Linked DNA regions of Homo sapiens: all the other regions are linked to region 2. The links come from fine-mapping of genetic effects on gene expression. A gene starts in region 2. Each other region holds a variant in brackets. All regions are shown on one strand. Distances are between the middles of the regions. Region 1 holds the start of ZFP37 (ZFP37 zinc finger protein). Region 2 holds the start of ZNF883 (zinc finger protein 883). Region 3 overlaps ZFP37 (ZFP37 zinc finger protein). Region 4 has its middle 20 kb from the start of FAM225B. Region 5 overlaps FAM225B (family with sequence similarity 225 member B).

Evidence for each region. PIP is the estimated chance that this variant, and not a neighbour inherited with it, causes the effect.
Region 1: its variant is fine-mapped to the expression of ZNF883 in whole blood (TOPMed, PIP 0.96).
Region 3: its variant is fine-mapped to the expression of ZNF883 in whole blood (TOPMed, PIP above 0.99).
Region 4: its variant is fine-mapped to the expression of ZNF883 in whole blood (TOPMed, PIP above 0.99).
Region 5: its variant is fine-mapped to the expression of ZNF883 in whole blood (TOPMed, PIP 0.90).

Annotation. Positions count from the first base shown.
Region 1 is chr9:113,055,931-113,062,490 of GRCh38, reverse strand. It overlaps ZFP37 (ZFP37 zinc finger protein), which reads left to right and starts at 5,767. Exons shown (of 4, transcript NM_003408.3): 1 at 5,767-5,934. The coding sequence starts at 5,803. RefSeq lists an enhancer at 5,567-6,136. The variant C/A (reference allele first, on the strand shown) is at 3,322.
Region 2 is chr9:113,008,567-113,015,126 of GRCh38, reverse strand. ZNF883 (zinc finger protein 883) reads left to right here and starts at 2,935. Exons shown (of 5, transcript NM_001101338.2): 1 at 2,935-2,977; 2 at 3,900-3,986.
Region 3 is chr9:113,038,442-113,045,001 of GRCh38, reverse strand. It overlaps ZFP37 (ZFP37 zinc finger protein), which reads left to right. Exons shown (of 4, transcript NM_003408.3): 4 at 734-6,560. The coding sequence ends at 2,277. Among named protein-coding and RNA genes, the nearest start is that of ZFP37, 15 kb to the left of the region's middle. The variant C/G (reference allele first, on the strand shown) is at 3,536.
Region 4 is chr9:113,088,077-113,094,636 of GRCh38, reverse strand. No RefSeq gene overlaps it. Among named protein-coding and RNA genes, the nearest start is that of FAM225B, 20 kb to the left of the region's middle. The variant T/G (reference allele first, on the strand shown) is at 3,379.
Region 5 is chr9:113,098,339-113,104,898 of GRCh38, reverse strand. It overlaps FAM225B (family with sequence similarity 225 member B), which reads left to right. Exons shown (of 3, transcript NR_024376.1): 3 at 1-176. Among named protein-coding and RNA genes, the nearest start is that of FAM225B, 10 kb to the left of the region's middle. The variant C/G (reference allele first, on the strand shown) is at 2,934.

The DNA.
Region 1 (6,560 bases), 47 kb before region 2:
CGGGGCGGAGGGCTGTGGCCATACACACACGATGATCCCATCCGCAGCCCGCCGGGATGGTCCTGATCTCAGAGCAACACCCGTCGGGTACACAAAGGGGAGGAGAAAATCAGACCGTGAGGCCTAGGAGGAACCAACTCAAACCTGGCTGGTCGTGGGCAAAATGTGGCCCTCTGGCCCACTCTCCTCTGCTGCCTGTTTCTCCATAGAAAACTAAGCTGGGACGAAAGCACACCCTGTCCTTTCCTAACGTCGGTAGATGGATTCCTGCCGCCGTGCCAGAAAGGAGTTTTTCCTCCGCAGACTGCAGGAGCAAGAGAACCTGCGGGACTCGGTCTCCCTTCACTCGAAATTTGCCCGACTCTCGGCATGGTGTGCACACACCCAAGCACGCGGGCGCGCACACACACACACACACACATACACACAGGCACGCACACACGCAGGTGCACACCAGGAAGTGGAGAAATCGTCCAACGCAGAGGTAGAGAGGACTTCGAAATGGGCAACGAAGTAGGGCACTTCCTTTGAAATTACCGTGAAGCCCACAGCTACCTTTGTCTCTGTTCTGCCACTCCGCAAAATTGCTCATCACTTGCGGGAGACAGAGCGGCAGGGACCCAGGGAGAAAGCGGAACCCCTCCAACCCGCCTAACCTAATCAAGGTAGCCTGCCCCTGTGGGCGTGTCCGCAGCCAATCCTCCTGGGAACTCCCAGCAGGGGGTCCTGGCTCCCTATCAAAGCCCGCCGGCTGCGCCCAACCGGCCATTGCCCGGCTTGCGCTGCTCAGGCTGCCAGAGGTTAGAGCCTCCTCGCCGGGAACACAGAGCTCTTTCCTGGATGGGGAAGCTGTCCTTTGAGGAGACGGGAGAAGACAGACCTCCCTGTGGAAAGCAGGGGAAGATGGAGACACGCAAGACCCGGGAGGGCTCTGAGAGAGGACGAGGTGAGTGAGGGTCGAGTGTCTCGTCTGTGCGGATTGGTGTGTGGAGGGGGTGGCAGGGGCCAGGGAGGCAGGAGAGTTAGAGCTGGGGTGACAAAGGCAGCGGCCCCCGCCCCACGGGCCCTGATCCGGCAGGTGGTGGGGAAACCTAAGGTCAAAGAAAGGCAGACTTTTTGTGTGCTGGGTGGCTCCGCCAGCTGGGCCATCCTCTGGGTGCGCCCGCGGAGGAGGGTTTGCTGGAGGGTGCCAGGCAGCTGGGGAACAGCCAGAGTCAGGAGACAGGAAGGGACCCGGGGAGTGGGGCCTGGAGGTCTTGGGCAGCTGGAGAAAGAGGAGGGGGTGGGGGACACCTGGGAGCAGAGCCATTCCTGCCTTGAAGTCACTCTGGGAGCTTGGCCCTTGCAACCCTCCCGCAGCCGTCTACGGACGGGTCATGGCCCACTCACTGTCGACCTCCTCTTCCCCCGCAGCTTCCAGCGGGCACAGCCGGGAGGCCTCTGCGTCCAGGCACAAACGGTGGAGAAGCCCCGACGGCTCCCCTCGCAGTCCCGGCAGAGAAACCGGAAACCGAGGGCGGAAGGTCAAGCCACGACCAGCCCCAGCCGGAGAGCGAGGCCACGACAAGCCCGAGTCCGGCAGAGCACGACGCCCCCACGAGCGCAGAGGAGGCAGGTTTAGGGGCTGGGAGCTTGGAGGGGTGGGGAGGAGGGCGCAGGGCCCCGGGAAGGGGAGCGGGGAGTGGGGGGCCCCGAGGGGGCCGAGGAAGCCCTCAGTGCGCCAGGAACCCGGGCCCCCGGTGGCCCCAGATGAGATGTGCTTCAAGTTTGAATGGGCGGAGGGGAGGGCACCCCGGACGGGGCACCGGAGTCCCCAGGATGCAGGGAGGGGCCGAGAGGATGGGGCGCGGAGGCGAGCCGCGGAGGGGTGGGGGATGGAGGGCAGGGGGAGGCGGGGTCGGGAGCGGCTTCGGGACCTTGGAAATGGGTCCCCTAGCGCTGCGCGCAGTCCCTCTGACACCTCCCGCTCTGTCTCCCGCGCAGGTTCTGTTCCCAGCCCGAGGCGCCTGGAGGAGCCAAAGCACCGGCCTAGATCGCCAGGGAGGACGAGCGGCCCGCAACGCCGCGTTGACGTCCGGGAGGAGCGACCCACCTCCCCAAAGCGCCGCCGACGCCACTCCCCAGAAGCCTGGGTCTCCCTCCCGTGCCCGCTCTCGCGAGTCGTCAACCACCTGGGCGGGCTGGACGTGGCCCTGGGCGAGCTTCGGGCCCCGGGGGGCGCCTTCCTCCCGGGGCCCGCCGGCGGCACGCAGCCCAGCGCCTCGCAGCGCGCCTGGCTCACCTGGCAGCTGGCGCACGCCGGGGCCGCCCTGCACTGGGCGCTGGCCACGCTCGACAGCCTGCTGGCTGCGGGGCCCTGGCCCGCGGGCCCGCCGCCCTTTGCGCCCGCTCCTGGGGGGCCTTAGGTGCGCACGGGAGCCAGCACCCTCGCCTTGGAAAAGCTCGAACCCTCTGCCCCAGAGGCGATCCCGACTCTGCACCGCAAACTCTACGGCGCCCTGCAGGACGGCGGCCTCCTGCCGCTTGGACGCCAGCCAGGAGCTCCCCGGCAGCAGCAGAGCAGAAAGAAGGATGGCCCCGCCCCACTTCGCCTCCCGGCGGTCTCCCTCCCGCTGGCTCACGGAGATAGATGGCTGCCTAGCTCCGGAAGCCTAGCTCTTGTTCCGGACATCCTAAGGACGACACCGTTTTTCCTTCCGGGGGCTCACCACATCTGGGACTTTGATGACTCGGGACCTCTCTCCCATTGAATTTTTGCGCGTTTTCTGGGAAGGGATGAGGTGTGGGCTTTGCGTTTGGATGTGGGATTGTCCTTTGAGCCGAGAGCGTTGAGAAGCCTACCTGGAGTGACACCCGTGTAGAGACTGAGCCACGTGGATTCGCGGAAGTGGGGGTGGGGGCTTGGGGCGGTACCTCACCATAGGGGATTTCCAGGGGAAAGTGAAATGCCCTCGGTGTAGGTCATTCGTAGTGGAAAGGAAAATGCCTGGTCCCTCAGCTTCTTCGTGTGTCCCAAGAAATGTCCTCAATATTTCCAACCTCTGCCCCCAGGGTCAGGAAAATATTCCTGGCAGGTTTTGGTGAGCCTCTGGAATCTCTCCGCCATTCCGCGTTTGCACCCTCGGCTTTGGCAAGGATGAACTGCATCCACGTTTTTGGAAATCAGTCGTCATGTGTTTAATGACCCTTGTGGCTACCTCTTCGAGGTGTGTGTGTGTGTGTGTGTGTGTGTGTGTGTGTGTGTGTTCATGCCAGCGTCCTATGTCTTGTAACTGAAATCTGGGAACTTGTCTCCCTACCCTGTGATGATCACCTGGGGAA[C/A]TTTGGAGAAGGAGGTGGAAGGGGAATGTCCCACTTCGTGTCTTGGAACAGGTGGCTTCTTTCTTGGGAAAAGAGGTGGGATGGAGAGAATGCACCCGAGCTCTTCAGAAAGGACCTGCACTGATTGGTGATAGGCAGCATGGGCTCAGGAGAGCAGGGAGAGTTAGGGGAGACACCCACGTGCCTGGAATAGTGGAGGGCCATTTGGAGCAAGCCTCAGATGGAGAGCCACATATCGAGGTGTTCGGTCAATCCTTGTGAACCAGAGAGTGTTCCTACGAATGCTAGAGTCTCATAGAAGTAATGTCTCTTTTACGTTTTTTTGCCTGATTAATATTTTCTTCCCCTCCCGGTGCCTTCAAGTATGAATGACAATAAATACCATACATATTTACCGTGTGTGACCTCTTCATTAGGGAATTCACTAGAATCAGCCGAATTCACACAGTTATCGCCGCACTTGCTTCCCCTGTCCCTGTCGGGAGAATTTTCAGGTCTACTCGAATGAATATACTCAACAGTACAACATTATGTTCTGATCCTCCGTACTAACTCATCCCTACCACATATATATATATGTGTATATATATGTATATATATATGTGTGTATATATGTATATATATGTGTGTATATATGTGTATATATGTATATATGTGTATATATGTATATATGTATATATGTGTATATATGTATACATGTGTATATATGTGTATATGTATATATATGTATATATTATGTATATATATGTTGGTTTCAAGAAAATCCTTGAGAAACTGAACTGCCCCTCTTTCTGATTTGTGAGGAAGAAAGGAAAGGAGAGGTATTGAAAAAAATATTGTACCTTTTTACGACTCTAATATCAGGAACAATTAAAGTCAGGACCATATCTGAGGCAGAAACAAAGCAATTGCCTATCCGTACAAAGGTGACGCTCAAAGAATACTCTGTCAGGAACACAGTGTAGGGGGCCGTGTCTTAAGTAGGTGAAGAGTAATTTCAAGCCATCAATTATTTTTCAGTCTTCACTGAGTCCTTAGTTTAGTATTGCTGGATAACAAATTATCACCAGCTTTAGTGGATTAAAGTATCACAAACCTATTATCTCACAGATTCTGTAACCTGGAAGTCTGTGTATATCATGGTTAGGGTGATGGTTAATTTTATCGGTCAACTTGACTGGGCTAAAGGATGCCCAGAAAACTGGTGAAACATTGTTTCTGGGTTTGTTAGTGTGTTTCTGGGAAAAGATTAGCATTTGAATTAGCAAACTGAATAAAAAAGCCCCCACCAATGTGGGTGGCCACCACCTAATCCACTGAGGGCCTGAAAGGACAAAAAGGAAAAGGAAGGGTGAATCCTCTTTTCTATTTTTTTTTAATCTTTAACTTTTGTGGGTACATAGTAGGTGAGTATATTTATGGGGTACATGAAGTAGTTTGATACAGGCATGCACAGTGCAATAATCACATCATGGAAAATGGGGTATCTATCCCCTCAAGCATTTATCTTCTGTGTTACAATCCATTTATACTTTGTTATTTCGAAATGTACAACTAAATTATTATTGGATATATACACCTGTAGTGCTATCAAATACTAGGTCTTATTCCTTCTTTCTTTTCTTTTTTTTTAAAAACCCGTTAAGTATCCCCACTTCCCTCCCACCTTTTCTTTTTTCTTGAGCTGGGACATTCATCTTCTGCCTTTTGACATTGGAGACCCTGGTTTTCTGGCCTTTGGACTCTGGACTTACATCATCCCTACCCCTCTCCACTCTTTTTCCAGTACCTTGCATAGCGCAGCACCTAACCTGCACATATTCAATGAATGCAATTAATGCATGAAATGGCGCATTAAGGAATTATTTCTCCAAGTGCTTGATTATTCTGGTGAAATATCTTCACCAAACCCGGGCTCTCACGGAGGAGTGGTGTGTTTACTTAAGTTTCTGTTTCAGTTTTTCTTATTGTTCTTATACTATATATGAAAAGATTTATCGTATATCTCAAAGATTAACGTCCTCTCCCTATAAAATAATGTTATTTGTTCGATCAGGCTTTTCTCCGTTATGCTTCCAATTTCTCGCATCCTGCCTTTCTAAAGTCCGCACTAAGCGTTGTGATTCCCGGACTTCTAGCCGCTGGCCGCACTGACATGTATTCGGAAAAGCAATTCCAAATTCTGTAAAATATCTTCCGGCAGTGATGCGATCCGAACTCCGGCAGTGGGTTGTCAGGCCCAGGTCAGTCCTGTAGTGCGTAACGGAACTCGGTTCCGGCTGGCTCTGATCGCATCACTCCTGCATCCTGCAAGTAACGCCCTCGCCAGCTTCCACCTCCCGATCTAATTGTCCCAGAAGTCCCCGCACTTCCGCTGTACGGCTGAGTGTTTGCCAAGATGGCCGCGCCCGTGCGCTATTACCGAAGGGCGCCGCCATCGCGGCTGCCGGACCCGCTAAGGCCGCCCTCCGGGTAGCCGCCATGTCGGTCTCCAGCGGCGTCCAGATTCTGACAAAGCCAGAGACCGTGGACCGGAGGAGAAGTGCGGAAACGACCAAAGAGGCCGGGCGACCACTGGAGATGGCTGTGTCCGAGCCCGAGGCCAGCGCCGCGGTGAGAGCTGTGATGAGACAGGGTGTTTTGGCGGTCAGAGATGGTGTACTTGCGGGGCAGTGATTGGAGTAGTCTGTGACGATAGGTGATTTGGGAATTGGTGGAATCGATGCTAGATGGTCTTTTGGGAGGTCGGTGTTCTGAGTTATCTGTGGGGTTAATGATTTGGCTTTAGGATATCAGTATTAGGAGGGATCTGCAGAGACAATGATGGGGAGGCGTCTGTGGCAGTCACCGAGTGTCGGAGTTTGGAAGGAGATCAGAAATGGAGGCTTTGTGATGTGTCAGAGATAGGGAAGGACCGTGGGGGTTGGCGGTTTGGGATGTCTATGGGAGCCAGCGATTATGGGTGCCTGTGGTGGTTAGAGCCTGGGTTATCAAAGAGGGTCAGTGTTAGGATTTGGGAAATTCAGTGATTGGGAGCATCTGGGAGCATCAGAGATTGGGGCTTGGGAGTCAGTGACGGTGATGTCTGTGGAAGTTTGATTAGCAGTATCTTTGAGGGTCAGTGGGTAATGGAGGAATCGGGGGGCCAGTGAGGGGGGAATATGACTGTTGGAGTTTGGGGAGTCAATGTTGAGGTGTCTCTGGGGATGGTAGATGATTTGTATGTCATCTGGGGAGAA
Region 2 (6,560 bases):
ATCACTAGTAAAATCCCAACGGCATTTTTTTTTTTACAGAAAAAATCCTGAAATTCATTTGGAACCACAAAAGACTCAAATAACCAAGGAAAATTTGAGCCAGACTAACAAAGCTGGAAATATCATACTCCCTAATTTCCAAATATATTATAAAGCTACATTAATCAAAACAGTGTATGACTAGCATAAAAACAGACGTCTAGACAAATGGAACAGAATAGAGAGCTCAGAAATAAACCCACAATGATGAAAAGATAGTCTCTTCAATAAATAGTGTTGGAAAAATTGGATAGCCACATGAATGAAACTGGACTCTTATGTTATACTACATGCAAACATTAACTCAAAATTGATTAAAGTCTTAAACATAAAACCTGAAGCAATAAAACGTTTAGACAAAAACATGGGGGAAAATATTCTAGACATTGTGCTGGCCAATGATTTATTGGATATGACACCAAAGTGGGATTATACCAAGTGGGATTACATCAAACTAAAAACCTCCTGCACTGGCCGGGTGCAGTGGCTCACGCCTGTAATCCCAGCACTTTGGAAGGCTGAGGCGGGTGGATCACGAGGTCAGGAGTTTGAGACCAGCTTGACCAACATGGTGAAACCCCATCTCTACTAAAAATACAAAAATTAGCCGGGTGTGGTGGCGTGCACCTGTAATCCCAGCTACTCAGGTGGCTGAGGCAGGAGAATCGCTTCAAACCAGGAGGTGGATGTTGCAGTGAACTGAGATCATCACGCCACTGCACTCCAGCCTGGGCGACAGAGCAAGACTCCATCAAAAAACCAAAACCAAAAAAAAAAAAACAAAAAAAACAAAAACCCTCCTGCGCAGCAAGAAACAACAAAATAAAAAGATAAAAAAGCAACCAACAGAATTTATTTTTTGGAGAAAATATTTTCAGACCATATATCTGATAAGAGGTTAATATCCAGAGAGTTAATATCTGCCTGACAAAGGAATTCCTATGCATCAATGGCAAAAAACAAATAACCCAATTAAAATTGGGTGAAGCATCTGCATAGTCATTTTTCCAAAGAAGACATACAAATAGCCAACAGGTATATGAACAAGTGCTCAGTATCACTAGTAATCAGGGAAATGCAAATCAAAACCACAATGAGTTATCACCATACTTCTGTTAAAATAGCTATTATAAAAATAAATACATAACAGATGATGTAGAGGAAACAAACCCTGTGTACTATTAGTAGGAATGTAAATTGGTCCAGCCACTATGGAAATCAATATAAATGTACCTCTAAATATAGAATTACCCTTTGATCCAGCAATCTCACTTTTGGGTATATATCCGGAGGAATGGAAATCTGGATCTCAAAGAGATATCTGCACTTCCACGTTTATTGCAGCAGTATTCACAGTAGCCAAGATATGGAAACAACCTAAATATCTATTGGTGGACAAGTAAAGAAAATGTGGTATATACATATAATGGAATATTATTCAGCCTTATTAACAATGAAATCCTGTCATTTATGACACCATGGATGAAACTGGAGGATATTATGCTAAGTGAAAGAAGTTAGGCACAGAAAGACAAATATTGCATGATCTCACTTATATGTGGAATCAAAAATAGGGAAATACATAGAAACAGAAAGTAAAATGGTGAAGGGGCTGGTGAGGGAGAAATAGGCAGGTTTTGGTCAAAGAGTACAAAGTTTCAGTATTTATTTATACACAATAAATAAGATCTGGATGTCTTCTTACCATAAAGAGCCTATGATTCACAATAGTGTATTATATACTTAAAAATAAGTAAAGAGGGTAGATCTCACATTAAGTGTTCTTACCACAAAAGGTGGGGGAAGCCCAAAGGGGTGGAAACTTTTGGAAGTGATAGATGAATTTATGGGATTGATGGCATGATGGCTTAATGGTTTCACAGGTATATATACTTACCTCCAAACACATCAAGTTGTGTATATTAACTGTGTACAGTTATATCAATCATAGCTCAATAAAGCAATTTTTTAAAGTATGTATAGTTTTATACTTGAGAATATCTAATTATACAGAATTTGTATATATATGCATAGAAATTACATATTTAAATATATAATAGGGAGTATCTTGGAGTGAACTTTTATCTGACTAATTTTGTTCTTTTTCCTTACCTCTATTCTCTGTTATCTACAATCTGTCTATCTATCTATATTCGTTTGTTTAAGAAAAAAGTTAGATATACATATTCCCTCTTCATTATATTCGTTTTTCGGACGTTTTTGTCAAGAACAGATGTGGAGGAGTGAACAGATTACTCTACAAGGATGTTCATCAGTATACTATTTTTGGTAGCACTGAAGGGATCATAACCTAAGTTCCTAACAGGAAGAAAAAAGCTAGAAAAAAATCTACCCCAAAAGTATGACCTCATTCTTGGATGGAATCTCTCTGGTGCTTGCTCGCTGTCTCTCTCTCTGCCCCCTGTCTCTGCCCGCCCCGCCCCCCCGCCACCGTCCCCTCAACACACACTCATAACAAAGAAGCTAGCTATAAATCAGAGATTTACTTTTAGAATGCTAAAAAATATTAATCACTGCGTTAATAAATATTTCTGCAATGAATCCATCTGGGTAGTTTGGTTTTTTATCTGTTGAATAAAGAGTTATTTATAAATCATCTATTAATGTAGTGAATAGGTATTACTTTTGTGTCTGGGGTGTTGTTAACGCAAACTTTGCATCTCTTTGGATTTACAGTTGTTTATAGCAAAAGAAAAAATCTTTTCCTTTTTTCTTCTTTTCATGTAAACAACGATGGAAACGACGCACGTTCGCAACCCGCAAAGCATTAGAAAGACACCGGTGAAAGACGCAGCTCAAGAGGGCGCTTTGCAGAAGATGCTGGGAAATGTAGTTCCTGGCGGCCGCGTGCGCAGGCGTACTTCCTGGCTTGGGAACCACATCGCCCGACCGTGCTCTTTATTTTTCGGTGGAGCAGGTGAGCTTTTTCTTTCCCGACCCTTGCACTCGTGTGGGAGGTGGGGAGAGAGGTCCCCTTCAAACACAACCATTCGGGCGGGTCGGGAGAGGCCTGAGAATGCATTGGCCGGGCCCGGGGGCGGAGGAAAGCCGATTAGGTCAGGCTGGGTATTTGGTTCACGTTGCAGTGGAGGGGTGGTGGTGACCTGGGCCAGCATCCCGCTTCAGGGTGAGGAGGAGGCAAAGCCGTGTCTGCTCATCCCAGCCTTAACAGTCAGGGGCTTGGGTTCTCTTCTGGGTTGGAGAGTCATGAGAACAGAGCTCAGAGCTTTTGGGCCTTGCTTTGACTGTGATGGGGGGCAGTTTATCTGGGGAGGGGCAACCACCCCAGACCTTGGTGGTAGGTAGACCTGGGAATTGCAAGAAAACCGTGATATACGTATTTAGTGCCAACTAGAATTTAGGTTTCCCGACATCCAGTTCTTGCTCTTTCCTCAGAAACTCACCTCCTCTCTAGAGATAGCTTGTTTCGTTTTACTGGTAAATTTCTGAAGTCTCTTCTATAAAGAACTGTGGAATTGATTCCCTACACTCTGCGGGCGACGAAGAGCAATTGTTTGTTCTTTGAGATGGCATTTGTGAATGCACTTCGAAAAATTGTATATGCTTTACAAGTATTGTTAACAAACAAAGAGGGAGCTGGTGCACTCGGTGCCACCCATCATGGGAGGATAAAGTTAGCCCTGTTTCTGGTTTGTCAGATTGGACCAGTGACCAGAGAGAGGAATGTAAGTGGCCTTTCACTTTGTACTCTGCAGGGAAAGAATCTGTTCCTAGATTCATTCTGACATTTTTACAGAGGGTGTGGGTTATATCCAGGTAGTCAGACAGGCTTCTCATAAAGACAGTCCTGATTTCTCAGGGCCCCTTTCCTTTTTCAGCTCTGCTTTCTCAGGTCTCTACTTACTTATATAAGATGGCATCAAGAAGAAGGACCTGACCACTGGCCCCTGACTACATGGTCTTTGGTGAGCAAAACTTTTCAAGGCATTTGTACCTTAAGCTGGGTTTAATTTCTAAAGTTCCATCTTGCAGTGTGGAAAAATCATATGCAATTAAACGTCCCTTGATAATCTCTTTTATTGCTCATTATTTGCTCTCAATTTTTTTTTTTTTTTTTTTTTGAGACAAGGTCTCGTCCAGTTGCCCAGGCTGGAGTGCAGTGCACGATCTTGGCTCACTGCAACCTCTGCCTCCTGGGTTCAAGCGATTCTTCTGCCTCAGCCTCCTGAGTAGCTGGAATTACAGGCGTGCACCACCACGCCCGGCTAATTTTTGTATTTTTAGTAGAGATGGGGTTTCACCATGTTGGGCATCCTGGTCTCAAACTCCTGACCTCGTGATCTGCCCACCTCAGCCTCCCAAAGTGCTGGGATTACAGGTGTGAGTCACCGTGCCCGGCCTAATTTTTCTTTATAACTGACAAATAAAAATTTTATATATTCATCATGTGTAACATGTTGTTTTGAAATATGTATACGTAGTAGAATGGCTAAATCAAGCTAATGAACATGCATCACCTCACGTACTTTTCATTTTTTGTGGTGAGAGCACTTAAACTGCTCTCATAGCAATTTTCAAGAATACATTGTTATGAACAATAGTTCATAACGTGTATGCACATGTAATGTGTATACAACCATGCAATAATATACATGTGTAAATGTACCCCGACTATGTTCTTTAAACATTAAAATAACTCAGCATAGCAAGATGCTCACTTACGAGAGGGCTGTAAGAAGTGAGACTGAGGAAACAGGAGATTCTCCCATCTCACTCTTACCTTTAGATAACATACTTTCTTGAGCCTGTTGGGCAGATTTGTACAAATAAAATATACATGTGTGTCTGTAACGCAGCTCTGCTGTATTTTTTATTTCCTGAAATATCACCTCTGTCCAGAGGGAGGGAAAATTTTCTTTCTTTCACTCACTGAATAAATATTCATTGAGCACCTACTTTTTGCCAGCTAATGTTCTAAGCATTGGGATATAACAGTGAATAACACAAAGTTTCTGCCTATGTGGAACTGACAGTCTTGGATGGGCACACAGACAATAATGTAAACACAGATGTTCCTCAACTGAGCATGAGGTTACATTCCAGTAAATGTGTAAGTTGAAAATATTAATTCAAAAATGTACTAATTCACCTAACCTACTGAACATCATTCATAGTGATGAATAGAGGAAACTATACCAGAGTAATGGGGCTAGGGAAGGCATAGGACAGCTGTTATTTAATATAGGGGAGTAAGAGAAGGCTTCACTGGTAGATGACATTATAGAAAATGAGAATATGGGCCGGGCGTGATGGCTCATGCCTGTAATCCCAGCACTTTGGGAGGCTGAGGCAGGCAGATCACGAGGTCAAGAGATTGAGACCATCCTGTCCAACATGGTGAAACCCTGTCTCTACTAAAAATACAAAAATTAGCTGGGCGTGGCGGCATACGCCTGTAGTCCCAGCTACTCGGGAGGCTGAGGCAGGAGAATCGCTTGAACCTGGGAGGTGGAGATTGCACTGGGCCGAGATCACGCCACTGCATTCCAGCCTGGGCTACAGAACAAGACTCTGTCTCAAAAAAAAAAAAAGGAATATGAGCCTTGTAGATACTTGGGGAGGGGAGGGGGATTAGGGAGATTAAGTTCCTCAGCAGAAGCAACAGCAAATGCAAAGCCTCAAGGTGCAGATGTGCTTAACCTTTGTGGGAGCATCAGGAAGGCCACGTGGCCAGAGAGGGGTGAGTGATAGCAGCACAGTAGGAGTTGAGATGAGAGAGGTAAGGCGTGCAGACCACACAGCACACAGGCTAGTATGGCCACAGCCAGTTTGGCTTTTATGCTGAATGAGAAGAGAAAACGTAGGAGGTGATGGTGTTCGGTGTTATTGTTTATTCAGCTCTATTAAGATTTACATATAATTTACCAATTTTCATAGGGTTTTGAATAGAGAAGTGACATAACTTGACTTAGTTTAAAGGAACAATTTTGGATGCTCTGTTGAGAATAGAGTATAGGGTAGCAAGGTCAGACATGGATACTGGCTAGGAAGCTAAAGCAATCATCCAGGTGAAAGATGGATTTTTCTATTTCCTTCATTGTCTGACTTTTTAAGCCAACCAACACTTCATCCACCCCAAACTTCCAATTCCTCTCCCCATCTCCACTCTCATGCTTCCTATTTCACTAAGAGAACTAGAAAAGAACTTCCAAATGCTCTCACCACCACATCCCCTAACCTTCCAGGAAGTATTCCCATTATACTCCATAGTAACAGGAGGGAACCTGTCTTCCCTCCTGTTACTATGGAGAAATGGCCTGGACTCTAATTTATGGCCAACTCCTCTACCAGTGCACTAGATCTCACTTTCTCTCACTTACCCGGGACAGTGCCTGGGACAGTCACTGGGCAAAATTCCTGATAGTTTTGTCATTTATATATATTTTGCTTATTTAGCTATATAGACATAATTTTTCAGAAAAATAGAAAAATTCAAATAAAATGCTGGATTTTTAAATCATAAATGATCTAATATCCAT
Region 3 (6,560 bases), 30 kb before region 2:
AGTCCTCACCAGGGACTAGAAATAGGAACTAGGAAGGAACTAGGAAGCCATTGGGAATTGAAATTGTGCAAATGATCTCTTTAAAGACGCAGTTCTTATGTCTCTGCTTCTCGGTGTGTGGATGGTTCATACTTTGACTTGACGAGCTTTCTGTTTACGTAGAGAAAATATGGTTTACTAGTACCTGCTTTATATAATTTCTAAATTTAAGTACCAAGTGGAGACTAACTGGAGTCAAATTTGTTAGAAGAAAGAATCTTGTTGGACATCTTGGTTTGAGTCAGATTTGTCTCCAACTGTGCCCATGGAGAATTGGGGTAATATAGTATAGGCTGCAGGAGCAATATATTATGGCCAGCTTGGGAGTTATCAGAACTGGGCAGCTTGGGCTTATAAGAAACCTCAAAAAGTATCAGCTACAATCATAAGCTCTTTTAACTCCATCTATTCCCTGTTCACTTCTCCCTGTGTTTATTTCATCTTCTATCCCAGGTTGCTCACTCATATTTTTAAGCAGCAAAAACTTTAAAAAATCACTATTGTCACTTTTCCCACCTCTTTTTACTACAACATTTTCCCCCTCAAGTCCATTCACCCTAGTTGTTTCATTCACATTGGTATACCAGGCTTGAATAAAAATTTAACCCTACAACAGGTCATTTCTTTACCAGTTTTATTCCAAAATATAAGAGTACAAAGATTCACAAGAATATCTCACTGAATTCCATTTTAGAAGTCCAGAAAGATGATGACCAGCTTGAAAATATCCAGAAATCTCAAAACAAACTCCTCAGGGAAGTTGCAGTCAAGAAGAAAACTCAAGCTAAGAAGAATGGCAGTGACTGTGGTTCACTGGGGAAAAAAAATAATTTGCATAAAAAACATGTTCCTTCAAAGAAAAGGCTTCTTAAATTTGAGTCATGTGGAAAAATTTTGAAACAGAATTTAGATTTACCTGATCACTCAAGAAACTGTGTAAAAAGGAAATCTGATGCAGCTAAAGAACACAAGAAGTCATTCAACCATAGCTTATCTGATACAAGGAAAGGCAAAAAGCAAACTGGAAAGAAACATGAGAAATTATCCAGCCATAGCTCATCTGATAAGTGTAACAAAACTGGCAAAAAACATGACAAATTATGCTGTCATAGTTCATCCCATATTAAACAGGACAAAATTCAAACTGGAGAGAAACATGAGAAATCACCCAGCCTTAGCTCATCTACTAAGCATGAAAAACCTCAAGCTTGTGTGAAACCCTATGAATGTAATCAATGTGGAAAGGTTCTCAGCCATAAACAAGGACTCATTGACCATCAGAGAGTTCATACTGGGGAGAAACCATATGAATGTAATGAATGTGGGATAGCCTTTAGCCAAAAGTCACACCTTGTTGTACATCAGAGAACTCACACCGGAGAAAAACCATATGAATGTATTCAGTGTGGCAAAGCCCATGGTCATAAACATGCACTCACTGACCATCTAAGAATTCATACTGGAGAAAAGCCCTATGAATGTGCTGAATGTGGGAAAACCTTCAGACACAGCTCAAACCTTATTCAACATGTGAGATCTCACACAGGTGAGAAGCCATATGAATGTAAGGAATGTGGGAAGTCTTTTAGGTATAACTCATCTCTTACCGAACATGTGAGAACACATACAGGTGAAATACCATATGAATGCAATGAATGTGGAAAAGCCTTTAAGTATAGCTCATCCCTTACTAAACACATGAGAATTCATACAGGTGAGAAACCCTTTGAATGTAATGAATGTGGGAAAGCTTTCAGCAAGAAGTCACACCTCATTATACATCAAAGAACTCATACTAAGGAGAAACCTTATAAATGTAATGAGTGTGGAAAAGCCTTTGGACATAGCTCATCTCTTACTTACCATATGAGAACTCATACAGGTGAAAGTCCCTTTGAATGTAATCAATGTGGGAAAGGCTTTAAACAAATTGAAGGCCTTACTCAACATCAGAGAGTTCATACTGGAGAGAAACCGTATGAGTGTAATGAATGTGGGAAAGCCTTTAGCCAAAAGTCTCACCTCATTGTACATCAGAGAACTCATACTGGGGAGAAACCTTATGAATGTAACGAATGTGAAAAAGCCTTTAATGCAAAATCACAGCTTGTTATACATCAGCGATCCCACACTGGAGAAAAACCCTATGAATGTAATGAATGTGGGAAAACTTTCAAACAAAATGCATCCCTAACCAAACATGTGAAAACTCATTCAGAAGATAAATCTCATGAGTGAAGTTAATGTGGGAAATTTGTTAACTAAATTTAAGGTTTTGTTGAACCTTGGAAATATGCTGATTTTAAAGAGTGTTAGAAAGCCTTTAGCAAGATGTCACACCTTGTTGTACATGAGAAACTTTGAAAATGGATCTTCATATAGAATCAGTGGATGGAAACAAGGGTTTAAACTTGATACAAAACCTTTTATAAAAAATATTGTTTTAACTACTCAATTATTATAAATGATCTACATGTTCAGATTGAAATTGAAAGCTTTAAAAATTGTGAATTATTTGAATATTCAAAGCAATGGAGAAACAAGTTATATATGCTGACAGTTCCTGTGTTTCTTCTTGTTTTGTACTTAAGCACCATATATTAGAGTTGAATTTGCATATCTGTTTATTGCCTTATGTAAATGAGTGTGGCCATCTGTATAAGCCTCTTTGACATTTTCACCCAGCTCTTTCTTAATGTCTGTGTTGGCTTCTGCATCAGCAGAAATCTTTTTAAAAGGGTTGTTATATATGTAAAAAATGTTAACAGGAAAATGAGAGAAAATAAAGCAGCTGAGGATACAAATGTGCTGGTAGGGAGCGATATTCAAGATATATTGTGAAGTGTGAAAAAGTAGGTTGCTGAACCATGTATATAGTATGTTCCCCTTTGTGTACAAAAGGGTATGTTTGTTTAACCTCTGTCTCTTATCTCTGTATGTGTATGTATCTTTGTATGCATATATACATGTATCTGTATGTGAATAGACTTTGAAAAAATACAGAATAAACTTCATGGTGGTTGCCATTGGGCAGAGGAGTATAGGACTGGGGTCTAGGATAGGAGCAAGACTTCCTTGTATATTTGGATTTTTAAATCATGCACATGTATTATTTTTATAATTAAAATATTTTAATATGCATAAATCAACATTATTTAAGGTTGTCACTGAGCCCCTCCACAACATGTGAGATCAACATGTGAGATCTCAGATTTTGACAGAGTTAAAATCTTTGTATGCTTATTCATGAATGATGATGAATCTAAAGTATATAGTATGAAACTTGATGTTGAATTCATAAAGACTTTTTCTATCACACACAAGTTCTTTCATTAACATAGTGAATTATAACAGCACTGTTTCTACATTTGCCATTTTTTGATGTTGAATTGTGATTGCAGGTGATGATGAATTGTGATTGCAGGTGAATGAAAGTGATTTTATGAATAATCACCCTGTTTTATCTCATATTCAAAGAACTAACACACAAACACCT[C/G]AATCAGGGAATTCGAATGAAACAAATGTCACCCCTCCCTGTTCTCGCTCAATATTGGGCATTATTTACTGGATCACTGTACTCTTTCTGAGTGAACCCAGAGTTGGCCTCAGAATCATTGTGCAGCGTGCATTCCAGAAGGTACTATGCATCAACTTGGACTGTCACAGGAGACCTATTTGCCATTGCACACCTGGATTTTTTTTACTCTTGAGCCATAGATTAAAAATACTTCTGGCTGGGCATGGTGGGTGCCTGTAATCTCCAGCACTGTGGGAGGCCAAGGTGGGTGGATCACTTGAGGCCAGGAGTTTGAGATCAGACTAGCCAACACAATGAAACCCCATCTCTACTAAAAATACAAAAAATTATCTGGGCATGCTGTAATCCCTGTAATCCCAGCCACTCAGGAGGCTGAGGCAAGAGAGTTGCTTGCACCCAGGAGATGGAGGTTACAGTGCACTCCAGCCTGGGCAGCAGAGTGAGGCTCTGTCTCAAAAAAAAGAAATACAAAAAATGCACAAAACTTCTGAACTATTTTGAAATCTAAGTTGTTACACTAAAAGCAGAGACATAAGTACAGAAATGGTTTTCAAAAACATCATACCTTTATTTTAATACAATATTAATTTACATAATATAAAATATTATAATTTGGCATGTTATCTTTTATATTTTTTAAAGCACAATCCCTACATTATTTCATTTATTCCTCAGAACTAACATATGAGCAGTAATCGGGACTTGTCTAGTCATGTTCAATCCTGTTGAGTAAATATTTCACCTAGACAGTAATTTAGCATAATAATGGGCCCCAAAGAAATATGTGCTTAAATGCCATCTTTACAAATATTTATCATTCAAGCTCCTTCCTTCCTGACCTCATTTCAGAGAATTATAATGTGTTAATATAATATATTGAGAATGGAATATGTGTTCGTGTATGTGCATGTGCACACATGCATACACATGCACGGGTTGAAAGCTCAACTCATGAATATATCCCCTCATTTCCAAGTAACTTATTTATCACATGGGAAGAAAATGCAATATGAAAGCCATTTCTACCAGTAATTTCTTAACAAGTGGAAATATAGCACTATGCACAGAATGAGTCATCACTGTCTAGAGCTGTAGAAAGCCTGCACTTTTTAGATGGATGAAACAGTTGCAGGTTATGGCTATGTTGAATTTCCACATGTCTTGGGGAACCCATAGTATTGCCACATCTGAGACAGTGAGAATTATAGGTATGCCTGAATGATATAAATGAATGCTGAAAGCCACTTTGTGCAGTAATAAAATGAATTAAAAGTTAGCATTGATGAATGAGGAAAGGATGTCTAAATACAATTGGAGGTTAGTATAGGAAAACAGACACACAGTGGTAAGTCTGAATCGATACGTAAACTCTAGTGTGCATAAAAATTGCCTGAATGATTTGTTAAAACACAGACTTGAGAATGCAAATTCTTGGGCCTCGTCACAGACATATTGGATCAGAAACCCTGTGGGTGGGCCTTGAGAATTTGCATTTTAATAAGTTTCCAGTGGATTCCTGTGCTGCTGGTCTGGGGACCACCCTTTGAGAACCACTAATCTAAATCATGGTGTAAGTAAGTTTAAAAAATTATTTTTAAACTGTTTTTCAGATCCTCTTTAAGAAAATGAAGGGGCATAAAAGTAAATTATTATTAACAGTTTTGAAACATTTATTTATTCAAGTGATATGATCATCTAAGTGCCTGAGATACAGCAGTCTACAAAACAAAAAGAAAGCAAACAAACAAAACAAAACCCTGTTCTCATAGACCTTAATTCTAGAGGAGGACATAGGTAATAAATAAACAACTACAATATAAAGTATAACAGATCACTGGATGGCAAAAAGCAAACCAAGGAAGGGGAGGGAAGTGTTGGGGAATGTAATTTTAAATATAGTGATGGGAAGCAGGCAGTAAGCTTACTTAGATGGTGACAAAAGCAAAGACCCAGAGAGGGTAAAAGAGCAAACCATGTATATATATATGACGGAAGAGCATTCCAGGGATATATCTTTTAGAATCTGAGGGTGTGGGAAGAGAAAGATGTTAAACTCCTCTGACATAAAGAAGAGGAAAAAAAGTGGAAACATTTTTTTAAATCAAGATTTAAAAAAAAATTACATTTGTGATAGGTAGAAAACAATCTGTCACACACTGCTTTTGGTAGTTGTGTAAGTTTGTACAACCTACCAAAATGTAAATCTGACAGTATACATCAAAGCCTTATGATGGTCGGCAGTCCATCGAGGAATCTATTCTATGTTGTACAATCAAGGCGTACTATGATATTTATTGCAGAACAGAGAGAAATAGCATATACATTGCTAGTTAATTGATTAAATAAAGCATGATTCCTTCAAAAATTGAGTAATATGACATTAAAAACCACAATTTCAAACTATATTTAAGAAGATACAAATAATTCTTTATTATTACTTTTACTCTCAGGAATGTGTTTGAGTGATGCATCTCCAGGCATCAAGTGAGTAATCCAATATTGAAGAAAATTAAAATTTTCCACAAAGTCCCCCTTCTAGAAGAATGTGCTCATATCTTTTGACCAGAAATGAGTCACATGACCACACCTAGTTTCAGGTGGCTTGAGGAAATTGAATCTTTCTTTTTTTGTTTTATTTTGTTTTGAGACAAAGTCTCTGTCACCCAGACTGGAGTGTGCAGTAGTGCAATCTTGGCTCATTACAATCTCTACCTCCCAGGCTTAAGCACTCCTCCCACCTTAGCCTTCCTAGTAGCTGGGACTACAGGTGCATGCCACCAAGCTAATTTTTTTTTTTTTTTTTTGGTGGAAACAGAGTTTTGCCATGTTACTCAGGCTGGTCTCAAACTTCTGGGCTCAAGTGATCTGCCCACCTTGGCCTCCCAAAGTGCTGTGATTAAAAGTGTGAGCTACCACATTTGGCCAAATCTTTAATTTCTTAACCTTCATAGTAAAGGAAATAAAGAGACATGGGCATTGAAAA
Region 4 (6,560 bases), 80 kb before region 2:
GGAAAGGAAAAATTAAGTCTTGGGTTGACTAGCAAAACCTGACCTTTTCAAGCTCTAGCTCTAACATCTTCTTGTCTCTGAGTTGCTGCTGAAAGACAAAAATATGAGAGTTTGGGACCCATTTCTCACTCTCATTCTAATCAAGCAGCAGATATTCATTATTAATGAAATATATAACTATGTTAATTTAATTGATATAGGTATTGTTTCCAGGATATTCATTTAAAAAACACTTCATTTTATAAAGCAGTTTTAGGCACACAGAAAAATTGAGCAGAAGGCACAGAGAGTTCCCATATTCCCCCCTCCCCTCACCATACAGCCCTTGCACTGTCAACATCCCTCACCAGGGTGGTACATTTGTTGCAGTCGGAGAATCTGAATTGACACATCATTATCACCTAGAGCCCATAGTTTACATTAGGGTTCACTCTTGGTGTTGTAGATTCCCTGGGTTCTGACAAATATAAAATAACATGTATCCACCACTATAGTATCATACAGAATAGGTTTGCTGCCCTAAAAATGCCCTGTGCTCTGCCTATTCATCACTTCCTCCCCTTAACCCAGGGCAACCACTGATCTTTTTGGTTGTTTTGTTTTGTTAGAGACCGGGTCTCACTCTGTTGCCCTGGCTTGAGTTCAGTGGCATAATAATAGCTCACTGCAGCCTCAAACTCCTGGGCTCAAGTGATCCTCCCACTCAACCTTCCGAGCAGCTAGGACCACAGGTGCACACAACCACATCTGCTAATTTTAAAAAACTTTTTGGAGAGATGGGAGTCTCACTATGCTGCCCAAGCTTGTATTGAACTCCTGGCCTCAAGCAATCCTCCCAACCCAGCCTCCCCAAGTGCTGGGATTACAAGTGTGAGCCACCACGCCTGACCAAAACCACTGATCTTTTACTGTCTCCATAGTTCTGTCTTTTCCAGAGTGCCATATAGTTAGAATCACACAGTATGCAGCCATTTCAGGTTTTTTTTTTCACTTGGTAATAAGTATTCAAAGTTCTTTCATGTACTATTAGTTTTATTTTATTTTTAATTGACAAATAAAAATTGTATGTATTTGTGGGGTCCAAAGTGATATTTTGATACATGCATACATTGTGGAATGATCAAATCAGAGTAATTCGTATGTCTGTCACCTCAAATATTTATCATTTATTTGTGATGAGAACATTTAAATCCCTCCCCCCTTTTTTTAAGAGATAGGATCTCAAACCCCTGGCCTCAAGCAATCTCTTGCCTCAGCCTCCTGAGTAGCTGGGATTACAGACACGAGCCATCATCCCCAGCTTTAAAATCCCATCTTTTAGCTAGTTTGAAATATATAATACATTATTACAAACTATAGTTACCTTGCTGTACAAAAGAACACCAGAACTTATGCCTCCTAACTGCAACTTTGTACCTACTGACCAACATCTCCCATTTCTCCATGAAACCACCTCCCACCAGCCATTAGTAACCACCTTTCTACTTCTATGAGTTCAGCTTTTGTAGATTCTACATGTAGGTGAAGTCATATATTTGTCTCTGTGCCTGGCTTACGTTACTTAAAATAAGGTCTTTTAGGTTCATCCATGTTGCTGCAAATGACAGAATTTCCTGTTGTGTTTTTTAAAGGCTTAATGGTTTTCCATTGTGTACATACACCACTTTTTTTTTGAGACACAGTCTTGCTCTGTTGTCCAGGCTAAAGTGCAGTGGCATGACCATGGCTCACTGCAGCCTCAACCTCCCAGGCTCAAGCAAACCTCCTGCCTCAGCTCCCACAGTAGCTGGGACTACTGGGACTACAGGCATCTGCCACCACACACAGCTATTTTTTTTTTTTTTGTATTTTTTGTAGAGACTGGGTTTCCCATGTTGCCCAGGCTGGTCTTGAACCCCTGGGCTCAAGCAATCCACCCACCTTGTCCTTTAAAAGTGTTGAGATTACAGGTATGAGCCACCACACCCTGCCTGACTCTGGAATGCTTGACCAAAACCTCCAAGGGTATAAAATATCTAGTCTTTCTGCTTTCAGCAGGCTCTCCTAAATCAATTCCTAAATATCATTCAGTCATCCAAACTGCGTAAAGAATATCATCACACTTTCAAGTTATTAGTCTGAAAAGAAATCTCACACTGATGAAGAAACAAAGTAAATATAGTTAATATAGAGAATCAATTAATTAAAAAATCATTCATTTCAACTTGCAAGAGGGATGACTACACATGTTGGTAATAATCAAGTTTGCAGCCTATTTCCCCCAAAATGCACACTTCCTTGAGGTATATAAAGTTTTTACAATAGAATCTCATCTACTCTAACCTAAAGTTGGAAGTTGTCCCCCTAGCTAGTGATGAACACTTGGTAAACTTTGGAGAAAAAGTTGGAAGGCGAATGTCCCACTGCGTGTCTTGGAATAGTTGCTTCTTTCTTATGAAGACAGATGTGATAGAAACCATGAGAGCGCTGCACAAAGCAGCTGAAGCTGATGGGTGACATTCAGGTAGACAGCTTGGGGTCAACAGAGCAACCAGTGCATCTACAATATTGAAGGACAAGCTGGAGAGAACCTCAGATATAGATCAAAATATCCAGGTGGTAAATCAATACACATGAACTGCAGATCAGCCCTGTTAATGTTGTATTTTTTTTAGTGTGTTTCTTTCTTTCATTCTCATCTTTGTTGGTAATGTAATATTTTTCCCAGATTCATTAAAGAAAATAATATATATAGTTATATATACATATATATATATGAATTATATCTTCATTGGGAATTAAGTCAAACTAATTAATATTTATCACCTCACATGCTTCGAATCCTGTGCTGAGAATTCTGAAATCTGCTCTCATAGCCATCTTCAAGTGTACAATACATATGTATAACTATATTCACATTGCCATGTCATAAATATCCAGAAATCTCTAGTTAACTTTCTGATAAATTGTATCCTTTGACCAACATCTCCCTATGCCCATCTTGCCCCTGCCCTAGGCCATGAAGCCCAACTATCCACTCTAAACTTCTATAATTTTCACCTTTGTTGATCCCACATACAAGTGAGATCACGCAATATCAACATTACAGGCCTGGATTGCCCACTAGACAGGAAAACTTCAGGTTTATTCATGAAGTCAAAAATGACAGATTTTCCACTAAAAATGTGAATAGTATTCCTTTTTATGTCTCCACTGATGCCTAGGAAAATTTTGTACCTTACAAAAAGAAAAAGCCTACAACCAACATAATCTCGTACATATTTACTGTGTACATGGATTTCCTTAGGCTGTATGCCCAGATGGGAATGCTTAGATCCCAGTTCCACTAATTATTAATTAAACAGCTTCCACATTGCTCCTTACCACCACTGGCCTAAT[T/G]GACTATCTCAGCAACATTGCACCAGGATGCCCTTTTCTCCCCATATTAGACAATAATTATCTTCCGGGCATCTCAGAAAACAAGCTGAACAACAAACCCTCTAGAAAGGCCACACTACAATCCATGCTGACTCGTTTGGAGGGCCCTTGAGATGTATATAAAAGACTTAAGACCATGAATGAATCCCATGACACTAGCATTCCAGACATTAAAATTTCTTTTCAGCTTTTCCCTTTTGGGCACAGCTCTTTGGAAACAAATTTTCTATGGCTTGCCAAAAACAGGCAGGGCCCCAAATATCTGAATCTCCTTTCCCAAACTTCCTGAGTTTCTACCCGATTCCTGCCGACAATTGAGCTCTTTCTTTGACTCACGTGCTCACAAAGCAAAGAAGAAGGCTGTAGAGATAAACACAGGAACCCATCGGCAGCTGGATCAGTCCAGTTTAAACGACAATAAATATGATACACACTAACCGTGTGTGACGTCTTCATTAGGGAATTCACTAGAATCGGCCGAATTCACACACTTATCACCACACATGCGTCCCCTGTCCCCGCTCAGGAGAATTTTCAGCTCTACTCCCGTGGATATATTCACGAGAACCTTACATTCTGCTCCACCGTACTCACGTTGCCCTGCCACGGATATCCAGGAAGCACTCCACCTGTCTCTCGGAAACTTTGTGCCCTTTGACCCACATCTCGCATTGGCATCCTTTCCCTGCCCCTACACCTGCCCCTACACCGGCCCCAGGCCCAGCCAACCACCTTTCTCCTCTCTACTTTCCTGATCCTCACAGCATTTTCTCCATCCAACATCACAAGGAGATCACGCAATACGGGTCGGATGGGCCTGGCTGATTTCACTGGGCACCATGACTTTTGGGTCCATGCATAACGTCCCAGATGACAGGCTTTCCTTTCCTTTCCCTGATGTGTTTGTTCTACGAACCCTATTCATTTGTCCTTCTCTAGTCATCTGCTGAAGGGTACTTCGGTCGATTCCACGTCTTGGTTACAGGCAGCGTGCCGACAACCAATGCAGCAGGACACATATTTGCACCACAACCCGATTTCGTGTCCTTAGGCGATACGTCCAGAAGTGGGATGACTGGATCCCAGTTCCAGCGGTGATTTCTTGAGCAACCCCCCCGTATCGCTCCCGGCCACCCCTTGAGCAGCCCTTACTGTGTTGGCACCTCCCACACCCAGCTGGCCACGCAGCCCTGTCCTCAGGCCTCACTCCTCTCTGCGCCAGGTCCAAGGCAGAGACAGCGAGCCTGAGATGTCCCCGAAAGCCGTCAGGGCGTGACCGGATCCCACGGCACCGGCCCTGCGGATGTTCCATTTCCTTTCGCCTGCTTGCTTTCTGGCGGACGTCTCCGCGCACGCCGTTTCTCAGACTCGCCTGGGACAGCCTGCGCCTCGCACGTCTCCCTCTCCCTCTCTTCTCTTACCGAGTTTCTCCTCCCCACACCCCGCCGGGTCCTGCCTAGAGTCGTGTGCCCCTTCCTTGATTCACGTGCTCACCGAGCGAGCGAGGCGGAGGGCTGTGGCCATACACACACGATGATCCCATCCGCAGCCCGCCGGGATGGTCCTGAGCTCACAGCAACACCCGTCGGGTACACAAAGGGGAGGAGAAAATCAGACCGTGAGGCCTAGGAGGAACCAACTCAAACCTGGCTGGTCGTGGGCAAAATGTGGCCCTCTGGCCCACTCTCCTCTGCTGCCTGTTTCTCCATAGAAAACTAAGCTGGGACGAAAGCACACCCTGTCCTTTCCTAACGTCGGTAGATGGATTCCTGCCGCCGTGCCAGAAAGGAGTTTTTCCTCCGCAGACTGCAGGAGCAAGAGAACCTGCGGGACTCGGTCTCCCTTCACTCGAAATTTGCCCGACTCTCGGCATAGTGTGCACACACCCCAGCACGCGCGCGCGCGCACACACACACACACACACACAGGCACGCACACACGCAGGTGCACACCAGGAAGTGGAGAAATCGTCCAACGCAGAGGTAGAGAGGACTTCGAAATGGGCAACGAAGTAGGGCACTTCCTTTGAAATTACCGTGAAGCCCACAGCTACCTTTGTCTCTGTTCTGCCACTCCGCAAAATTGCTCATCACTTGCCGGAGACAGAGCGGCAGGGACCCAGGGAGAAAGCGGAACCCCTCCAACCCGCCTAACCTAATCAAGGTAGCCTGCGCCTGTGGGCGTGTCCGCAGCCAATCCTCCTGGGAACACCCAGCAGGGGGTCCTGGCTCCCTATCAAAGCCCGCCGGCTGCGCCCAACCGGCCATTTCCCCGCTTGCGCTGCTCAGGCTGCCAGAGGGTAGAGCCTCCTCGCCGGGAACACAGAGCTCTTTCCTGGATGGGGAAGCTGTCCCTTGAGGAGACGGGAGAAGACAGACCTCCCTGTGGAAAGCAGGGGAAGATGGAGACCCGCAAGAACCGGGAGGGTTCTGAGAGAGGACGAGGTGAGTGAGGGTCGAGTGTCTCGTCTGTGCGGATTGGTGTGTGGAGGGGGTGGCAGGGGCCAGGGAGGCAGGAGAGTTAGAGCTGGGGTGACAAAGGCAGCGGTCCCCGCCCCACGGGCCCTGATCCGGCAGGTGGTGGGGAAACCTAAGGTCAAAGAAAGGCAGACTTTTTGTGTGCTGGGTGGCTCCGCCAGCTGGGCCATCCTCTGGGTGCGCCCGCGGAGGAGGGTTTGCTGGAGGGTGCCAGGCAGCTGGGGAACAGCCAGAGTGAGGAGACAAGAAGGGACCAGGGGAGTGGGGCCTGGAGGTCTTGGGCAGCTGGAGAAAGAGGAGGGGGTGGGGGACACCTGGGAGCAGAGCCATTCCTGCCTTGAAGTCACTCTGGGAGCTTGGCCCTTGCAACCCTCCCGCAGCCGTCTACGGACGGGTCATGGCCCACTCACTGTCGACCTCCTCTTCCCCCGCAGCTTCCAGCGGGCACAGCCGGGAGGCCTCTGCGTCCAGGCACAAACGGTGGAGAAGCCCCGACGGCTCCCCTCGCAGTCCCGGCAGAGAAACCGGAAACCGAGGGCGGAAGGTCAAGCCACGACCAGCCCCAGCCGGAGAGCGAGGCCACGACAAGCCCGAGTCCGGCAGAGCACGACGCCCCCACGAGCGCAGAGGAGGCAGGCTTAGGGGCTGGGAGCTTGGAGGGGTGGG
Region 5 (6,560 bases), 90 kb before region 2:
AGGCTTCTTCCCCTTTGTTCTGTCCATTTCCAAAAATGTGAACACACACCTCCAACATGTTTCTGTGTATATTATTGTGTGCATAGATACTACCATTGTGAAATATTATGCAGATTAATAATGCACTATGCCATTGAAAATTTCAAAAGAAATGTGTAATGAACATTTAAAATTAATATTTTTGTTCTCAGTTAAGGGTTAAGGGATATAATCAGGTTCTCTGCAAAATACTATGGTTTAAAAATAACAAAGATAATATGGGTATTAATAACATTTCCTCAACAGGAATGATGGAGAATGCTTCAGTTTTTCTGTAGGGATTTAGTTTTTGAATTGGGATTTTGGGTAAGATATCTTTAGGATAAAATATGTGCACACAAGAAAATAGCATATTTTTCCTAAAAATTTGTTTTTTATGCATTATTATATACACATAAAAATGGTCTTATTTTGGCTGGGCACAGTGGCTCACGCGTGTAATCCAAGCACTTTGGGAGGCCGAGGCAGGTAGATCACCTGAGTTCAGGAGTTGGAGAACAGCCTGGTCAACATGGTGAAACCCCATCTTTATTGAAAATACAAAAAACATTAGATGAGCATGGGGCGGGCACCCATAATCCCAGCTACTTGGGAGGCTGAGGCAGGAGAATCGCTTGAACCTGGGAGGTGGAGGTTGCAGTGAGCCAAGATAGCGCTGTTGCACTCCAGCCTGGGCAATAAGAGCGAAATTCCATCTTAAAAAAAAAAGAAAGAAGTAGTTTTATTTCAAAATTAGAAGCAAAAAGAAAATAAATATATCCTGCTATAGAGACTTGTCTTCGGATGCTTATGACCTCCTGTAAATGCAGTTCCTCCCTCATCCCCGTCTAAGCATCCTTCCTCAGCCTCCTCAAATTGGAGCCTGCGTCATCAGAACCACGTGGAAGGCTCTAAAAACATTGACGGCATAGAGGGAGACCCTATCTCCAAAAAACAAAACAAAAAAACCCTTTATTTTTAATGGGATAAAAAGTTAAATGGTAGTTAGATATTCAAGTTTTGTATGCTCCATGAACAAACAAACAAACAAACAAAAAAACATGACACTTGATGGAGACTGCAGGCCTGCGTTCTGTACCTGGCTTTGAGGGAGTGATTGGATGGGATGGTGTGCTTCCTGTGCCTGTCCTGTCTGCTCTGGGTTTAATTTACTCTCAATTGGCCATTGTTCTTTCCATGATCTTATTTTCCAGGCATTGTCCTAGGACCCAAGGTCTCTTACATTCTTACATGTAACAGTAAGAATTCTTACAATAAGAATTGAGAGAGTAGAAGCTATTTTTTCCTATGACTTAGAACTTTGGGGGAAGTTTAAAGGGAGATACTGCATGTATTCTGTGTCATCATCTAATTTCTACAGACCCTTCTTAAGGAACTGACATTAATGTTGTACTTAATTCTTCAGGCAGTGTGGGCCAAGAATAAAGCCAGATATACATTTAGTCTAAAAGTACAAGTCATATTATTTCCATCAGTGGATTCCTATAATCCTATGAATAAAATCTTATACATTGGCTTATAAGAGACCCATTGATTCACTATTAATCACTATATTTCTGTTCTTACTGGGCTGAAAAAAAATTGAAATTTAACCTGATGTGTTTCCTGTGCTTTGAAATCTTACTTTGTTTTCATGGTTCTCTTGCCTATTTCTTACCCCACTGCACACATAGAAGAAAGAATATCAATAGCGGCAGTTCTTATCAATCAGAAAACAGGTTAAAAGCCATTCTGGTTCTTGGGCTAAGTCTCAGTAGCAGAGAGAAATAGAAGAGGAAAGGTATGGGATAGAAGTGTATTCACTACCACTCTCTCTGATCAAACCTTGGAGGGGAGCAACGGAGTCCCAGATGTATCCAGGAAGGGGGTCTTGCTTATAGTTTTCACAGCATTGCCTGGGATACAACAGATAATTCCTAGTTGCTATTGTGGGCTATGAATGAGCTAGAATGGGTTCTATATGTCAATGTGGCGGGTGCTGGAAAATTATTTTTAATGATTACATTTTCTTTGACATGTAGTCTCCATTGTTGCTACAGATGGAGAAGAGAAACAGGAGGATTGCATACAGAAAATATATATAGCCAAGTACAAACATGGCATCCATGACTTTTCTTCATGTTGCATTGAGCAAACTCACTCATGGGGCCCCAACTAACTGCAAGGGATGCAATATTTTGCTGTGTCCAAGGGGAAAGTGAATTGGGCTTGGTGAACATATAGCATAGACTCTACTGCAGAGTGGTCTTTAGGTCACCAAAATTCATGTTTCTCTTTCCCCCTCAGGTAGAGCACATTCACTATATCTCCAAAGAAGATGTTAGGAGCCAGCCAAAGTATTATCTAGTAATGCATCCACATCAGTGTTCTGGAACGTGGGGTTGGTCATGTGTACTCTTCCCCATAGTGGCTGGATGTGGCTCTGTGTATATTGTGGAGACAAGGTAATGATGATAAAGACCCCCACTCAGATAGGGATAAATAGGAAACACACAGCAATTTTTATTGCCTACTGGGTGAGCATTATAAAATGTGAATATTTTCCTCAATGAAAAGTAAGAAGAGAACTAGGTTCTCATGAAAAAGTGGCAAAATGGTTTTTACAAACTCTGGCGACTCATATATTTTAAAGTTGCCTAATCAACTGAAATGTATGTATGTAAGCATGGGTATATTCACTAAAGCCTAGAACTAATGATGACCTTAGCAGCAAAGGAATAAAAATATGTTCAATAATTAGTCAGATTGATTGAAATTTGTTTTTTTGTTTGTTTGTTTTTGAGATGGAGTCTTGCTCTGTCGCCCAGGCTGGAGTGCAGTGGCACAATCTCGGCTCACTGCAACCTCCGCCTCCTGGTTCAAGCAATTCTCCTGCTTCAGCCTCTCAAGTAGCT[C/G]GGACTACAGGCATGTGCCACCACACCCGGCTAATTTTTTGTATTTTTAGTAGAGACAGGGTTTCACCATGTTAGCAAGGATGGTATCAATCTTCTGACCTCGTGATCAGCCCACCTCGGCCCCCCAAAGTGCTGGGATCATAGGCGTGAGCCACTGCGTCCGGCCTGAACTTTCTTTTTATATGTTTATTTTGCAGATAGTATTTCTTAGAATTTATATTTTGGAGAACAAAAGGTACTCATGTACATGTATAATAGTTTTATTTTATAACATAAAATTGCAGGCTCAAGCTGAAGGCTTTGAGGCCAGTACATGGAGTGACCTCAATGGACTCGAGTGGTAGCAAGCTGAATTTGGTCTCCATCATATCTTTCTGCCCCCTATTGTTACTTCCCTGACTATATTACATTTTGTAGCCAAAGGGATTTTGCAGATGCAATTAAGGTTACTAATCCATTGACAGAAAATGATCTTCTCAGTGGGCCTAATCTAATCACACGAGCCCTTAAAAACGGAAAGCTTGCTCTGCCTGGCAGAGAAAGATTCCAAGTTAGAGACTCCACAAGTTGTTGCTGCTTTGAAGATGGAGACAGCCATGTTAGAGAGAATACAGGAAGCCCAGAGGAGCAGATGGCAGCTCCCAGCTGACAGTCAGAAAAGGAAAACCTGCCTCAGACTTGTAGGTGTAAGGAATTTGATTTTTCCCAACATCCTGAATGAACTTCAAAGTTGATTTTCCCCCAGAATCTCCAGACAGGAGCCCAAATAGCTGCAGCCTTGATTTCAACCTTGGGGATCATGTGCAGAGTGTCCAGTAGATTCCATCCAGACTTCTGAATCCACCTACAGAATTGTGAGATAATAAATGGGTGTTCTTTTAAGAACAAAGTTTGTGGTGGTATTGCAGTGGCCATGGAAAATTTGTACAGTAGTTAATAGTATTACTATTATTGTTATTACTATTACTATTTTCATCTCCACAGAGTTACACCACAGAAGGTACATGCATCTGCAGCAGGCCCAGCTCAGTCAACACCTCTCTGAGTACATTCTAAAGCCACAGCATGCATGAGATTCTGAGGGCCCAGGGTCACTTCTGAACACAGCAGCCCCCCAAAGACTCACAAGGCCAATCACTGCCCACTGAGGCAGAGGTGGGGGATCCATCAGAAAGGGCTGAAAGAAGCTCTAGTAACCCAGAAGTGTCCTCCAGGACCTAATTTGTGAGGTTACACTTCTACTTCTTGTCTTCTGGAAGCCATGAAGGCAGAGCTCATGTTCCAGAGTGAAGTCTTTAGTGACCTCCACTGGACAGTTTGAGTTGGATGCCTATCAGGCCTCCTTCCCTCCCCTTTTAGGATGGGTCCATCCCAAGACATGATGGGCAAGCCCTATCCCCAGATACACCTCCCATCGGTCATTTGGTTTCCTAAGTGGTTCCTGAGTACCACATAAATGCTAAGCACTAGATGCTGGGGATACTAGATGCTCACTAGATAGCAGTGAGCAACCTACATAAAATGCATGGCCTGTAGGAATCCATGGAGGGGAGCTCCCAGGACTGTATCAAGCACATGGAGATGATAGGGAGCACCTAAACCCTCTTGGATGAATTATTAACACCATGGGCAACATTCTACACATTTGTAATAAAGTATGGCGGTAAGGAAGGCAAAAATATCACTTACCCACAAAGAAATGTCCAAGCACAAAAACATCCATACCGACATTGTGTTTATGTTCAAGACAAGCTCACACACCCTTCGGCCAAGATGGCACTATTATGTTCTATGGAGTCCTTGCCAGTCACAGCAAATAGGAAAACTAGGTCAGCGTGTGTGAGTTTATGTATGTGTGTGGTTTTGTGTGTGTGTTTGGCAGGAGAGAGAATGCCATAATTAGTGACTATGAAAATATTCCCATATTTTCCACCGGCTGGGTCAATCTTTCTTCTCCTCACTGGTTTTCTTCCTTCCTAGGCACTCAAACCCCAATATCTTCCTATTTGCCTGCAGGCACTGTGCAGGTGCCCTGTGAACCATCTCATTATTGAAGATTATTTGATTTCCTTGCCTTTTGTCATCAAGCCAGGCGCCATGTTGAGTCCCTATAGGGAGGGGCTTCCCTTTTCCCAGATGTTGAGTTCCAAGTTTGTGTTAAGATAGATGAACCCCAGATATACAGAAGATCCTTAAGGAGCACATAACTTGTTCCTTGGCCTTGCTATCTCCACTGATGACCTACCTTAGCAATAACCCCCAAAACCTGTCCCCTTGAAGCTCACCCATCTCTGTGGCCACTGGACAGTGGCTACCTTTTCTAGCTTTCACAAAACACTATTTTCTGGAAAATAATCTTATGCTTGAACACTTTCAGAGTTGAGCTGTTTTGTGGTGGATGAGAGACTGGGCAAGGTGGCCCAGCCATAGGCTGATTTTCATGTCCCTGGGAGGGAATCCAGCTAGCTTTCAGTGGCTGGAGAATGAGTTCAGTGTACTTGAAAATACATGGACACTTTTTGGGGGGAGTGTGTTGGTTTTGTCTTTCCCAAGCCCAGTAATAATAAGTTCTTTCACCCTCAGCTTTGCTAAGACCTTACCCTTCCTCTTCCCTCTGGCCTCTTCCTCTGCCCACTTCCTAATCCACAAATAGAGCCAAGATTTCTCCTTCCTTGATACTCCAGAATCTGTCACAAAGGGAGAGTCAAGGGGAGTTGGTAGTCAACTGCATATTTTCATTAAGGCTATGTTAAGAATTGGGAAGCATCTCCCCAGCCTCAATCAGGAAAGGGATGGGATCTTGGGTGCAAGAGGTAGCTCTTCTTCACCAATGTATTTAGGGTCATGAGGATTGTTCCTTATCCCCTGAGCTCAGGGCCTCAAGCCTCCCAAACTCCAGTTCCACATTGAGATGTGTGAAGTTTCTTATCCCTTGCCCTGCCTGAGGGCTGAGTAGGACACTTGTGGCCCTGTGGTGCCTATGCACCCCCAAGAATAACACCATATGTCTGCATACAGTTCAGTATGATGAAGGAGCAGAGAGCATAAGTCTAGATTGTGAGGGTTGTTCTTTAACAGATTTTATTCTCATTATTTAAGCCTCTAAACACTTGTCCAGTTGGGTTTTGTGTTTATTAGAAAGGAGGTATTCATTGAACAAATGATAGAACCTGGGAGAGAGGGAGGTGTGTGATGCCACTGTCAAAACCCCTCCCTAACCCAAGAAGTCAAGTCATCAGTAAGAGCTGGACTTGACTTCTTTTCTCTAAGCCCAGTCTTAAGATACACCCAACTTCTCCAAACATGGCAAAGACAGAAGAAACCACTTTTCTTTAAGGAGAAACAGCTATATATGGTAAGAATGACTACCACTGTAAATGAGAAACAGAGACAAGACTCTTCAGAGGAACTATACTGTGAGCAGCAATACATTTTCTCTAATTGGGTGAAAATATTTCTTGAGAGAAATGTTGCTGGGAGGAGGGGATGGAGGAGAACTCTCTGGCTGACTTGAGGAAACAAACCTTATAAACAGAGCCTGAGGAGGCATGGGGATGGCCTGATGTCCCTTGGATCCTTGGTCCAGGCTGCCAGGGCCTGCCCAGAGATACAGGCTACTCAGAGAAG